2 separate regions of the Homo sapiens genome follow, and region 1 is linked to region 2. The links come from fine-mapping of genetic effects on gene expression. A gene starts in region 2. The other region holds a variant in brackets. All regions are shown on one strand. Distances are from middle to middle. Region 1 overlaps EPX (eosinophil peroxidase). Region 2 holds the start of MKS1 (MKS transition zone complex subunit 1).

Evidence for each region. PIP is the estimated chance that this variant, and not a neighbour inherited with it, causes the effect. A credible set is the group of variants that fine-mapping cannot tell apart.
Region 1: its variant is the best candidate, but not a certain one, in a credible set for the expression of MKS1 in aorta (GTEx, PIP 0.77).

Annotation. Positions count from the first base shown.
Region 1 is chr17:58,194,563-58,198,562 of GRCh38, forward strand. It overlaps EPX (eosinophil peroxidase), which reads left to right. Exons shown (of 13, transcript NM_000502.6): 6 at 402-608; 7 at 2,377-2,695. Among named protein-coding and RNA genes, the nearest start is that of EPX, 3.8 kb to the left of the region's middle. The variant A/G (reference allele first, on the strand shown) is at 2,210.
Region 2 is chr17:58,217,356-58,221,876 of GRCh38, forward strand. It overlaps MKS1 (MKS transition zone complex subunit 1), which reads right to left and starts at 1,900. Exons shown (of 18, transcript NM_017777.4): 1 at 1,796-1,900; 2 at 1,265-1,374. The coding sequence starts at 1,875. It overlaps LOC105371841 (a long non-coding RNA gene), which reads left to right and starts at 1,959. Exons shown (of 2, transcript XR_934884.4): 1 at 1,959-2,704. RefSeq lists an enhancer at 1,728-2,007.

The DNA of each region.
Region 1 (4,000 bases), 23 kb before region 2:
TGCTGACCCCGTACTCCCTACGTGTATTATCCATCACCTGGCAACCAGCCCATGCACCTGTGAATCCGTGCTATCATCTGGTTAGCTATCAGTGTACAAATTGATCTATCTATTTGATCTCCCTTCCCCTCTGGGAGAGCTGGTGAGGTCTGAGCCAGTCAACCTAGCCCCTCTCCTTCTCTTTACCACCGGAATCCTCAGGAGCCCAGCCAGAAACCATCCTTCTAGGAATGAGAGCAGGAGGTGGCTACGCCTCCAGGGACAAAAGGGGCATGGAGGGCAGAAGAGGAGAGGCTGTCAATTCCAGCAGGGGAGCTGCTGCTCCCTGAGTCCTGGGTTGGCTCTAATACCTTGTGGGGTCAGGGAGCCCATGTCCCGTGCTGATGTTATTTCCCCACCAGGTCCGGGCTGTCTCCAACCAGATTGTGCGCTTCCCCAATGAGAGACTGACCTCCGACCGTGGCCGAGCCCTCATGTTCATGCAGTGGGGCCAGTTCATTGACCATGACCTGGACTTCTCCCCGGAGTCCCCGGCCAGAGTGGCCTTCACTGCAGGCGTTGACTGTGAGAGGACCTGCGCCCAGCTGCCCCCCTGCTTTCCCATCAAGGTACCTACCCTCAGCCAATCTCCCATGCCCTTGTGTGGCCTCCCCCAAAGGCAAGGTGCTGGGGGTGGGGATCTGGAAGACTGGAGCACCATCCTTAAGGAGCTGCCTGTGGAGCTAGGGTATGAGACAGAGACACAAGAAACACAGCTGAGCAGAGACCCCGCGCCGTGTGTGTTTGAGAGGTGGGGGTAGGGCAATCTGCCAGGAGGCTCAGGTCAGGCTTCATGGAGTGGGAAGCCCTTGACACATGCCTTGACCCATGGGTCTGAATCCAACAGGGGAAGCCTCTGGGCCCCTGCTTTTGGCAACCTAAGGGCCTCTTAGCTCTTGCCCTTCTCTCCTTCCCAGAGTAGTCCAAGGGTCCTGCGGCTCTTGCCAGCTTCTTGGGCTTGGGCTGTAAGTAGGGTCCTAACCTTCAGGCTAGAAGCCAAGGACAGTGTGGGGCACTAGGGGAGGAAAGATAGAATCCAGGGAGCAGAGTCTCTGCTAGGAACATAGGGTTGACACACGTGCACACACACACTCTCTCACACACACACACGTGCACACACACGCTCCCTCTCACACACACATGTACACACACAGTCACCCTTAATAGGTGGGGCCACATTCATGAGGGATGACATGTGAGGGCCTCTGGATGGCCTCTCCCTGTTGCAACCTTATCTATTCCTCAATCCCTGGCTTAGGGGCACCTCCTCTGGGGAGCCTTCTCAGATCTTCCTATTACACTTTTAACATATGTCCTCCCCTCCCCTCTCCTCTCTCTCCTTCCTTCCTTCTTCCTTCCTCTTTCTTTCTTTCTTCTTTCTTTCCTTTCCTTCCTTCCTTCCCTTCCTTCCTTCATTTCCTTCCTTCCTTTCTTTCTTTCTTTTTCTTTCTTTTTCTTTCTTCCGTCCTTTCTTTCTTTATCTTTCCTTCTTTCTTTCTTCTTTATTATTATTATTATTGTTTTGAGACAGAATCTCACTCTGTTGTCCAGACTGGAGTACAGAGGGGCAATCTCAGCTCACTGCAACCTCTGCCTCCTGGGTTCAAGCAGTTCTCATGCCTCAGCCTCCCGAGTAGCTGGGATTACAGGCATGTGCCAACAAGCCTGGCTAATTTTTGTATTTTTAGTAGAGATTGGGTTTCACCATGTTGACAAGGCTGATCTCAAACTTCTGGCCTCATGTAATCCACCTGCCTCGGCCTCCCAAAGTGCTAGGATTATAGGCGTGAGCCACCACACCTGGCCCACATATGGCTTTTCTATCAAGCACAGCAGATGCCACTTCAACTTAGTTTCTTAACTCTATGTGTGTGTGTCTTTTTCCACTGAACTGCCAGCTTCCTGCAACCTTTCCTGTGTTTTTTTAACCTTCATAATCTCCAAAGCAGCAAGCAAGAAAGGGGCTTAGAAAAGGTCTGTCGAATTGAACAGAATTAAAGAAGCTCAGGCCTAAGAGTCAAGAGAACTAAGTTCTAATCCCACCTTTCCTGCTAACTGGTTGTCACTTCCCCTCTCTGAGGCTGTTTTCCTTGCTGTAAAATGAGGATCGAGATTGTTTCAAAAGCCTCATTCATTCCTAACCTTTTGAGACTCTATGAAACAAAATGTT[A/G]AGGACACTCAGACTGACGGGGTGAGCAGCATGAGCCTGGGTGAGTCAAGGAGGGCTTCCTGGAGGAAGGGAGTTTTAAGCAAGGTTTTGAGGAGGTGGAAGATGACGGAGAGGAGTGAGTCTGCTATTGAGGGGGCCCCATGTCACTGTCTCCTCTTCCATCTCAGATCCCACCCAATGACCCCCGCATCAAGAACCAGCGTGACTGCATCCCTTTCTTCCGCTCGGCACCCTCATGCCCCCAAAACAAGAACAGAGTCCGCAACCAGATCAACGCGCTCACCTCCTTTGTGGACGCCAGCATGGTGTATGGCAGTGAGGTCTCCCTCTCGCTGCGGCTCCGCAACCGGACCAACTACCTGGGGCTGCTGGCCATCAACCAGCGCTTTCAAGACAACGGCCGGGCCCTGCTGCCCTTCGACAACCTGCACGATGACCCCTGTCTCCTCACCAACCGCTCGGCGCGCATCCCCTGCTTCCTGGCAGGTCAGACAGGGAGGAAGGTGGTGTCTTCCCAGGAAACAGCCATCCCTGGGGTCCCAACTGGGAAGCAATGGTGGGATGTGGTGAAGGTACATGGTTTGGGACCTCAGTATTAGGCACACCATAAGCATGGATCTGTGCACAGCCATCATAGAATCAGAACGTTGAGTCCCTTTGCAAGCTCCCTGTGTGTGGCCAGAGATAACTGCTTAACCGTCTCCAGTGACAAGGCTCTCACCGCCTCTATGGCACCCCAGCTCAGCCACAGGCAGCTCCGACTGTTAGAAAGTCTCCTTATTTTGATCACATATTCACCTATTCCCCTTAATCATGCTTCTGGAACCTCAGAAAAGACACTGTCCCTCTTACACGCAGGAATACCTCAAAGTAGCTGTTAACTCCATCTCCATTTTTTTTCTCTTCTCTGGGATAAATTTCCGTAGTTCCTCCCTGTCCCCAGCTGTTGCTAGACAGTTAATACCCTCTTCTGGAAGCATAATTTGAACTTTCCTCAGGGTCTTTTGTCCCATGTACATGGTTACAATAATAATGGTAGTCATTTCTCATTAAGATATTTATCTTATTATTATTATTATTTTAAGATGGAGTCTCACTCTGTCGCCCAGGCTGGAGTGCAGTGGCGTGATCTCAGCTCACTGCCACCTCTGCCTCCTGGGTTCAAGTGATTCCCCTGCCTCAGCCTCCCGAGTAGCTGGAATTACAGGTGCCTGCCACCACGTTTGGCTAATTTTTGTATATTTAGTGGAGATAGAGTTTCACCATGTTGGCCAGGCTGGTCTCGAACTCCTGACCTCAGGTGATTCACCTGCCTTGGCCTCCCAAAGTGTTGGGATTACAGGTGTGAGCCACCACGCCCAACCTTATCAAGATATTTAAATGTGCCATCTCTAAACCTTGCAACAGCCCTGAAAGGAGGGAATTATTATTGTTCTCATTTTACGATAAGAAACTGAGACTCAGGGAAAGTGAATCATGCGCCCAAGAGCACAGAGTTAGTTTCAAATGACAGAGTCCACTTGAGAACACAGTCAGTGTAGTATCAAGGTCTCTGCCCAGTCCACTGTATTCCACTGTTTTCCTCACAGAGAGTCGGCCCCAACCCCTCTTTTGAAGGATTGTACATTTGTGTGTCCTGGAAAGAGCAGCTTGTGCCTTCGGGAGAGGTCAACTGAACTAAGACCTTGTGCAAAAGGGTTTAGTTAAAACCAAGCAAATGATGGAATTAACTTTCTTTCCCTGCCTGTAGTAGGTCTGTTCGTAAGGACAGTCTCTGCCCAACCCTCCCTC
Region 2 (4,521 bases):
GCCCTTCCTCAGTCCCAACTGTCTGCATTTGCTAGAAAATAACCCTGGCATTTTTATCTTTACTATTTCTAAAGCCATATATGTAGAATCACAAACACTGAAATTTAGGAGACCAAGTGTAAGGAGAGGACAGTGAAGGCAAATAAATGATTTTTTAACAGAACCAAATCTGGCTGAATGCAGTGACTCACGCCTGTAATCCCAACATTTTGGGAGGCTAAGGTGGGAGGATCACTTGGGCCCAGGAATTTGAAACCAGCCTGGACAACATAGCAAGACCTTTTCTCTACTAAAACTTTAAAAAAAAATAAACTGAGTGTGAGTCTGTAGTCCCAGCTAGTTGGGAGGCTGAGGCAGGAGGATGGCTTGAGCCTGGGAGACCAAGGTTTACAGTGAGCTATGATCATACCACTGCACTCCAGCCTGAGCAGAAGAATGAGATTCTGTCTCAAAACAAAACGAAAACAAAAACAAAGAAAACAAATCTAATCTAATACACTCTTGGGTATGCCTTTTTCAGAGACACGTTTCACAACCTGTGAGCCCACACTCTTGCCCAGGAACAGCTCTGAACAGAAAGAGAAACAATAAAAGCAAACAGACTAGTGACCTGACAACAACCACTCTGTCCTCTCCTCCTCATTCTTTTGGTTTCCCAGATAAGGAAAACCACAAGAACACAGTTGATCTATACATGCACATCATATGCAGATTTTGCAAGCAGTCTCCAGTTTAAAAATTGTTTTTAAAAGTGTTTATATGTGTATTTAGGGTTTGGGGCACGTTTTCTCTTTTAAAAATGCCACAAATAGGACGGGCGCGGTGGCTCACGCCTGTAATCCCAGCACTTTGGGAGGCCAAGGCGGGCGGATCACGAGGTCAGGAGATCGAGACAATCCTGGCTAACACGGTGAAACCCCGCCTCTACTGAAAATACAAAAAATTAGCCGGGCGTGGTGGCGGGCGCCTGTAGTCCCAGCTACTCGGGAGGCTGAGGCAGGAGAATCGCGTGAACCCGGGAGGCGGAGCTTGCAGTGAGCGGAGATAGCGACACTGCACTTCAGCCTGGGGGAAAGAGCAAGACTCCGTCTCAAAAAAAAAAAAAAAAAAAAAAAAAAAAAAAAAGCCACAAATAGAATGTAGGTTGCCGGGCAACTCTATAACATATCAGAAGTATAGTATTTGTTATCTCACTACATTTGGCCACAATTCTGATTAGTATCATAATTAGTATTAGATGGCACATCACCACCGTAACACCCACTGGCAGTTGGCTGAGGCCTAAAAGTGGCCAAGTCTATGAGGTCCTTCCCGAGCTCGGCAGCAGGCTGATAATGAAGAAAGTTGCTTGATGTGATTCTTTGCAGGTGGACTCTGTCAAGAAAAGCCCAAAATATTCGTTACCAGACACGCAACCAGGAGATGAACACAAAGCAAGGATGGGGGAAACAAAACAGAGGAGGTAGGGTTGCCAAGGTGTGCTGGGTGCAGACAACGGAGAGGAGGTGGGTGGGTGCGCCGTCCTATGGGGAAGAATGAAGGGGAGAGGGTGTACTGGGGGCACAGGGCTTTGAGAAACTGGGAGCAACAAAGACGTGAATGGACTTGGGTAGGTCTGTAAGGGGTTCTTAGAGGCTGTGAGTGGATGGGGGTACGGATAGTGAAAGAAGTGGGGAGCCCGGAGAAGTGGTCGGGATTGTAAGCAGAAAGTGGGGACCTCAGAACACCGAGCTCAGGTTGGAATGATCTAAGGACACAAAAGCATGGGGCCTCGGGGCTGGGGCGGTGCGACTACCGGAGGCGCAAGTTGCGCACGGGGTCCCGGGAGCGATACACTGCCTCCCCGGTGTCAGTGCTCCAGACGGTCTCCGCCATGACAGCTGCGACGCGCCGCGACTGCGCCGGAAAGCGCGCCGCTCTGTTTTCCTGGCAACGGAGACGCTGGATCGGGAGGCGACGGAGGTGCTGCGCGCGCAACCCGCCGTTCCCGTCACGGCGCCACGGTCGCAGTTGGCCACACAGTGCAAGTGCAGCCCAAGCCGAACGCCCAAGAGGGCTCCGGGGTCCTACCGATCACCGCTTACCATGTATGCGATAAAAGCTCACCGAAAGCGGGACCTCGTGCGCTGTGCAAATGAGGAAACTGGCACAGCCATCAGCCCACTTCATATAGACAGATAGATGCAGAAATGATGACGGGGACCAGGTGGCCTGAGTCTTCGCCCTCTACCTTTTCCACCATGCCACACTGCCTTCCACCCAACGCGTGAAAACTTTGGCCTGAAAATCGGGTGATGTGACTGTAAGAAATGCACCCATTATTCCCAAAGGAGTCAGGGAAGGTGATGGCCCTTAGCCAGACAAGAAAATATATTCTTGGAAGACAAAAAAAGTGTCAGAAGATTTATTAGTCTTTGTGTTGATATTCACTGAGCAAAGAAAGAAAAAACAAGGAAGTCAACAGTAAGGAAGGAAACGATGTTATTATTGAACTGATTCTTACCTTGTGTATGTTAGTTTTGGATCATTAAGCCACTTTGTTACTGCACTGGCTTCCTGAAAAGCCAAAAAAGTGACATTCACAAGTCATGCTTCGTTGTACTAGCAAAGGAAGGACATGCTGTAACCTCACGTCTGGCGTCCCGGCACTTTGGGAATGTCAACATTTATCAGCCTTGTTCACATCTAGTCCTCCTCCAACAAAGTAAGCAATTGTCCCCTGAACTCGGGAATCTCATGCCAGTTTGATGATTTGGCATTGGAAGCTCTGGGTGCCATAGCCACTAGTTGTGTAACACCGACTCACCATAAATAGCACCATTTATTTAGGATCTAGTGCAGCTTGAGCACTTTTGTTTGCATTGTCCCAAATCCTTGTAGAAGCCTCTCAAAAAGGTACTTTTATTCACTTTAAAAATGAAGTTCGTGAAGGCCAGGGTTTAAAGGACTTGCTAGCTTGCAAGTGGTAAAAGTACTGGGATTCTAGCCCAAGTTCTTCTGTCTTTTGAAGCCTAACCACCTTCCAGTTTGCCTCACAGCCTCTCACCTACCAATTTATTCCATAAACGCACACATTTCCAACCTGGGAAATAATAATTTTTTTTTTTTTTTTTTTGAGACGGAGTCTCGCTCTGTCGCCCAGGCTGGAGTGCAGTGGCGGGATCTCGGCTCACTGCAAGCTCCGCCTCCCGGGTTCACGCCATTCTCCTGCCTCAGCCTCCCAAGTAGCCGGGACTACAGGCGCCCGCCACTACGCCCGGCTAATTTTTTGTATTTTTAGTAGAGACGGGGTTTCACCGTTTTAGCCGGGATGGTCTCGATCTCCTGACCTCGTGATCCGCCCGCCTCGGCCTCCCAAAGTGCTGGGATTACAGGCGTGAGCCACCGCGCCCGGCCGGAAATAATTTTAACATAAAACAAAAGGCACCTTTCTAGCTCCTAAGAAATTGTCTCTCCAATGTTTCCTTTTAAAATTGTGAGTAGGCAATCTGTGCCACATGCACAACAGCTGATAAAGTGGAGCCTGATTCTAGTTTAATTTTATAACCAAATCTAACTTATAACAAAGTTAATCTGACATAATTATATGCAAAATAGTTTCTATACCACGTTATGGAAATATAAGCTATTTGTGTAAGCAACCATAATTAGTATTATTTTTATATAGGTAAACTAAGTTTTCATGTTTTGTTTACTGATTTCTATGAATCAGGATCCTTTTATGTTTAAATATTCAGCTTATTGGTCTTAAGTACATTTACCTTGTTTTTCAACCATCATCACCATCCATCGCCACTACTTTCTTATTTTTGAAAATTGAAACTCTGTTCCCATTAAATAGTAACTCCTCATTCCCCTCTTCCAGCCCCTGGCAACTACCATTCTACATTTTCTCTCTATGAAATTTGACTGTTTTAGATACCTAATCCATATTGTAGCATGTGTCAGAATGTCCTTTTTTTTTTTTTTACTTTAAATTCCGGAATACATGTACAGAACATGCAGGTTTGTTACATAAGTATACATGTGCCATGGTGGTTTGCTGCACCTATCAACCCATCACCTAGATTTTAAGCCCTGAATGCATTAGTTATTTGTCCTAATGCTCTCCCTCCCCCTGCCCCAGACTTTGCGACAGGCCCCAGTGTGTGGTGTTCCCCTCCCTGCGTCCATGTGTTCTCATTGTTCAACTCCCACTTATGAATGACAACATGCAGTGTTTGGTTTTCTGTTCCTGTGTTAGTTTGCTGAGGATGATGGCTTCCAGCTTCATCCATGTCCCTCCAAAGGACATGATCTCATTCCTTTTTATGGCTGCATAGTATTACATGGTGTATATGTACCACATTTTCTTTATCCAGTCTATCACTGATGGGCATTTGGGTTGGTACCATGTCTTTGACATTGTAACTAGTGCTCCAGTAAACATACGTGTGCATGTGTCTTTATAGTAGACTGGCTTATATTTCTTTGGGTATATACCCAGTAATGAGATTGCTGGGTCAAATGATATTTCTGGTT